2 separate regions of the Homo sapiens genome follow, and region 1 is linked to region 2. A link means that fine-mapping ties the variant in region 2 to the expression of a gene that starts in the linked region. Tissue or cell type: lung. Region 2 holds a variant in brackets; the other region holds the start of a gene. All regions are shown on one strand. Distances are from middle to middle. Region 1 holds the start of RECK (reversion inducing cysteine rich protein with kazal motifs). Region 2 overlaps RECK (reversion inducing cysteine rich protein with kazal motifs).

Region 1 (2,952 bases), 22 kb after region 2:
GCCTCAACTTCCCGGGGCTCGAGCAATCCTCGTATCTCAGCCTCGCGGGTAGCTGGAACAACAGGCATACACCACCATGCCCGGCTAATTTTTGTATTTTTAGTAGAAACGGGGTTTCACTATGTTAAGCAGGATGGCCTCGAACTCCTGGGCTCAAGGGATCCGCCCGCCTCCACCTCCCAAAGTGCTGGGATTACAGGGGAGAGCCTACCGCACCCGGCTGACTTTGCTTTTTTTTTTTTTTTTTTTAAGGTGTCTCTGCCTGTCTCCCTGTAAGCAATGCACTTCACCACTTTTGCATGCACACGTCCTAGCCATCTTTCAATGTCTAGTACAGCTAGGGGGAATCACTCCACTTTCCACTCATCCTAGGTCGATGTCCTCTCTCCCTCTGTGCACTCATACATGGCCCTTCATTTCCTCTGGACATTTCTGCCTTGAATTCGAGTTACTTCAATCTCCTGCTGTACCCCATCTCCTACCGAGAGAGCTTTTGGACGGAAGGAGTCGGCGTGCACTCAAAAGGCCAGCAAGCGGGAAGCAATCAATAAGCACTTAACAGTTTCCTATCCATCCTTGGTTTAGTTCTTGTAGAGCAAGAATTTCTCTCCTCAAGCCTGCCAGCCCCCGGGGGACAGGGTTTACTGATTTTTAATGTCTCCTGCCCGAGTCCAGGACCCACCACGCGGGCTGTGGGGACCGTCAGTGCTCACCGCCACCAAGGTCGTTATGAACCAAGTGCGGGTCAAGTAACAAGTAACAATAACTAACTAGGGCCGCGGTAGGGCGGCTGCGTATCCGAAATCCCATCTAAACCTCGCGACGATCCTGGGCGGGGGCATCGCACCCTTTTCTGACAAGCAGCAGAGGCAAGCGAAGGGGTCAGTGCCGAAGAGGGGGCCCGTGTCGGTGGGTGACAGACCAAGGCCTCAAACCCGAGTCACCGCCCAGAAGATCTTGGGGCGGAGAGAGTTCCTCACTCGCCCCGCCTCGGCACCAGCCTCTGGAGCGCTGAGACCTGGGGTCCCGGGGTCGCCGGACGTGGGCAGGGTCTGGGGGTCGCGCGCACCCCCGCCCCCTGCCCCGCGCCATCTTGGAGCGCTGTGGCGGCCGCTCCCGACAGCTTCGAACCGTTGCTCTGGAGGTTACTCACCCGCACTGCCCGGAGCCAGGCCCCCTGCCACCTCCGCGACCCCCGCCACGGCCAGCAGAAGGAGCAGCGCACCTCGCAGAGAGGCCCGGACGGTCGCCATGTCCGGGCCGGGCGGCTCCAGAGCCGCGGGATGCTCGGACCCAGCTTGGCCGCAGCCGCTGCCGCCGCTACCGCCGCCGCTCGCGCGAGGCCCCGCCCCCAGCGCCCGGCCCTTTGGTGACTGGCTGCGGCCCGCTCAAGCCCCGCCCCCTGCCTCACAGTGTTTCCAAAACCTCCCGGGGGCGGGAACGTGCCCCGTACCAGGGCTCTTTGTTATGGCCCAACTGTGTGTCGGCTTCTGCCAGGAGTCCACCAGCCCACGTTCTCCCAGAGTGAAGTCAGAGGATGTCAGAGCTGGGAGAGTCATTAGAAAACCTCTGCCACCTCCTGAGGTTTCGGGCCACTGAGGTGAGAGAGGAGACTGACCTTACTCAAGATCACACTGCAAGTTCACCTGAGAACAAGGGCTTAGTCCAAGGCCGAACCAAAGGGGCTTCTCTCCTTCATGTACCCTCAGTAATACTCGCAATATTCTTTCTGCCGAGACGCTGCCTCGCACCCAAAGAAAGCATGTCACCCGGGATCCTTCGGCCTCCCGCAGACACGGCCCCCTGACAAGGGTTCATCACTAGAGCTCTTTGGCACTATAGCCTCAATGTGTCTTTGTTGTACTTTAAAAATTATTTATTTATTTATTTAGGCAAGAGTCGCTCTGTCGCCCAAGCTGGGGTGCAGTGGCGCGATCTCGGCTCACTGCAACCTCCGCCTCCCGGGCTCAAGCGATCCTCCCACCTCAGCCTCCTGAATAGCTGGGACCACGGGCGCAGGTGACCACGCCTGGCTAATTTTTATATTTTTTTTGCAGAGAAGGGGTTTCACCATATTTCTCAAGCTGGTCTCGAACTCCTCGCCTCAAGCAATCCCCCAGCCTCCTCCTCCCAAAGTACGGGGATTGCAGGCGTGAGCCACTGTGCCTGGCCTTGATGTTACTATTAAGCACCTATTCCTGATAGGAAAAGAGGATAGGAGAACGCTTGTATACCTAGATGTGGAAAGCCTTGAATATCCGGCTGAGAAGTATAGACTTTGTCCAAGAGACAAGTTGGAAGTGGGTCCCACCCCACCCATCAGCCCAGCAGCTACGTGGAGAATGTTTAAGCCACTGGCTAGCAAAGCTAATTCATTGTCTCTTTTTTTCTCTGTGTGTTCCTGAATTAAACCCTTTTTCCTCCTTTTTTGAAAAAGCATGACCACCGTTTTAAATTCTCATGAAGACACCTGGGGCTAAATTACTTAAAACATTTTTAAAATTCCTTAATATTATTAAATATCCAGTCATTATTTACATTTTTCTTATTGTCTCATGATTTCTTTTTACAATTTTTCAAGTTCTAAACAAAATCCATATATTAAAGTTGGTTTTTATGTTTTTGGGCTCTTACATTTATCCTCTCTTTCGAGTTTACAAAAGGAAAACATGAATAAGTTAAAATATCTAAAACATCTCCTCTGATGACTCTGTTGCTTCTGTGTACAAGGTAAACTGAGGCACAATAAAATTTTAAAGTTTACTTCAGCACGCGGTGATTCATGAATTGAGAAGCTGCAAACCAGAAGTGGTTCTGGGGCTCAGCTCTGTCGAAGAAGCAGATTTTTACAGAGTGAATGGGAAAGTAATAAAAAGAAAATATTTGATTGGTTACAGTTATAAAGTTGCCTTATTTGGTCTATCCCACTAAAAAGCCTCTAGTTATACAAGT
Region 2 (2,500 bases):
TCTACAGAAATTATGAACAGCTAATTTGATTATGGCTATGTCTACACAGTCAATGTTCTAGAACTACAGGCACATCAATCAGCTATTCGGGGGGAACAAAGCTGAGATACAGAAATATTCCTTGTTCTTTTCCCATCTGAGAGCATTAACGATGAGTCTAGTTACTCAGGATACTTACTGGAATCACTGTTTCCAAGCCTATAGACAAAACTGAAGACTAAAGGGAATGTGTCAGTCAGAACTATTTAATCATCAACTTATTTTCCCCTTCACATAATATAAGCCACCATATCTAAAGAGGCTCTTGCAAACAAACTCACACTTTCTTGGTCTGGCACATGAGCATCCCAAACACTGAGGACAGCCCAAGTATTAGAGACCTTTAAAAGGTCTTAAAGTTACATGATTCAGATAGGTAAGCAATATATCTACAGTATGTCAGAAAATTGGAAGATAATAAGTCATATATTTTCCCTTATCCCAAATTCAATTTTCCAAAATCAAAATAAACAGATTTAGTTATTATAGTTTTCATAAAATTAGTCAAACTATAATAATAAATAAAATTCTAAGTTCCAGATAATTTTTTTTTTTTTTTTGAGACGGAGTCTTACTCTGCTGCCCAGACTGGAGTGCAGTGATGCTATCTCAGCTCACTGCAACCTCCGCCTCCTGGGTTCAAGCAATTCTCCTGCCTCAGCCTCTGGAGTAGCTGGGACTACAGGCGTGTGCCACCATGTCTGGCTAATTTTTGTATTTTTAGTAGAGACGGGTTTCACTATGCTGGCCAGGCTGGTCTCGAAATCCTGACCTCAGGTAATCCACCCGCCTCAGACTCCCAAAGTGCTGGGATTACAGGCATCAGCCACCACGCCCGACCCCAGATAAAATACTATAATGAAATTTAAAGATAGGAACACATTTATATTTAAGATTGTTTTTAGATTTATATCATAGGATAATAAAAGAAGAAAAACAATATTCTATCTAGCAATTTATATGAAGATTTTTTTTAAGTATTTAAGTTAAACTTAACATTTTATTTTGACCACAAATTCCAATCACATTTAAAAATTTGCTAACTCTGAAAGTAATTCATTGGATAGTTTCATTTAGACAGAAGCTTCTACAGTTAAGTTACAATAAGACTTACCATTGTCTCTGGGCAATAATCTGGGGCTCGCTGCAACAGATGTTTTAGTCGGGATTCACTTTTTGAGGAGAAAATCTATTTG[A/C]CAAAAAAAAAAAAGTTTTTGTGGCATTTTTCTATAAGAAATAAGAAGAGGTAAAACTTATTATCCTCTAGATTTATCAGTTGTCTAGAATATTTTCCAACTTCCTTTTTATTTTATTTATTTATTTTTAAATTTTTATTTATTTATTTATTTATTTATTAATTATTATTATACTTTAAGTTTTAGGGTACATGTGCACAATGTGCAGGTTAGTTACATATGTATACATGTGCCATGCTGGTGCGCTGCACCCACTAACTCGTCATCTAGCATTAGGTATATCTCCCAGTGCTATCCCTCCCCCCTCCCCCCACCCCACAACAGTCCCCAGAGTGTGATGTTCCCCTTCCTGTGTCCATGTGTTCTCATTGTTCAATTCCCACCTATGAGTGAGAATATGCGGTGTTTGGTTTTTTGTTCTTGCGATAGTTTACTGAGAATGATGATTTCCAATTTCATCCATGTCCCTACAAAGGACATGAACTCATCATTTTTTATGGCTGCATAGTATTCCATGGTGTATATGTGCCACATTTTCTTAATCCAGTCTGTCATTGTTGGACATCTGGGTTGGTTCCAAGTCTTTGCTATTGTGAATAATGCCGCAAAAAACATAGTGTGCATGTATCTTTATAGCAGCATGATTTATAGTCCTTTGGGTATATACCCAGTAATGGGATGGCTGGGTCAAATGGTATTTCTAGTTCTAGATCCCTGAGGAATCGCCACACTGACTTCCACAATGGTTGAACTAGTTTACAGTCCCACCAACAGTGTAAAAGTGTTCCTATTTCTCCACATCCTCTCCAGCACCTGTTGTTTCCTGACTTTTTAATGATTGCCATTCTAACTGGTGTGAAATGGTATCTCATTGTGGTTTTGATTTGCATTTCTCTGATGGCCAGTGATGGTGAGCATTTTTTCATGTGTTTTTTGGCTGCATAAATGTCTTCTTTTGAGAAGTGTCTGTTCATGTTCTTTTATTTTATTTATTTTTTTAAGACAGAGTCCCATTCTATCACCCAGGCTGGGGTGTAGTGGTGTGATCTCAGCTCACTGTAACCTCCACTTCCCAGGCTGAAGCAATTCTCCAGCCTCAGCATCCCAAGTAGCTGGGACCTTGGGCATGAGCCACAAATGCCAGGCTAATTTCTGTATTTTTTTGTAGAGACAGGGTTTCACCATGTTGCCATGGCTGGTCTTGAACTCCTAAGCTCAAAGCGATCCGCCCGCCTCAGCCTCCCAAAGTGCTGGGACCACACGCA

What was found.
Region 1: it holds the start of RECK, and the variant in region 2 is fine-mapped to the expression of RECK in lung (TOPMed, PIP above 0.99).

Annotation. Positions count from the first base shown.
Region 1 is chr9:36,035,300-36,038,251 of GRCh38, reverse strand. It overlaps RECK (reversion inducing cysteine rich protein with kazal motifs), which reads right to left and starts at 1,339. Exons shown (of 21, transcript NM_021111.3): 1 at 1,154-1,339. The coding sequence starts at 1,253. RefSeq lists silencers at 1,060-1,209, 1,220-1,419.
Region 2 is chr9:36,057,555-36,060,054 of GRCh38, reverse strand. It overlaps RECK (reversion inducing cysteine rich protein with kazal motifs), which reads right to left. Exons shown (of 21, transcript NM_021111.3): 3 at 1,154-1,228. Among named protein-coding and RNA genes, the nearest start is that of RECK, 22 kb to the right of the region's middle. The variant A/C (reference allele first, on the strand shown) is at 1,236.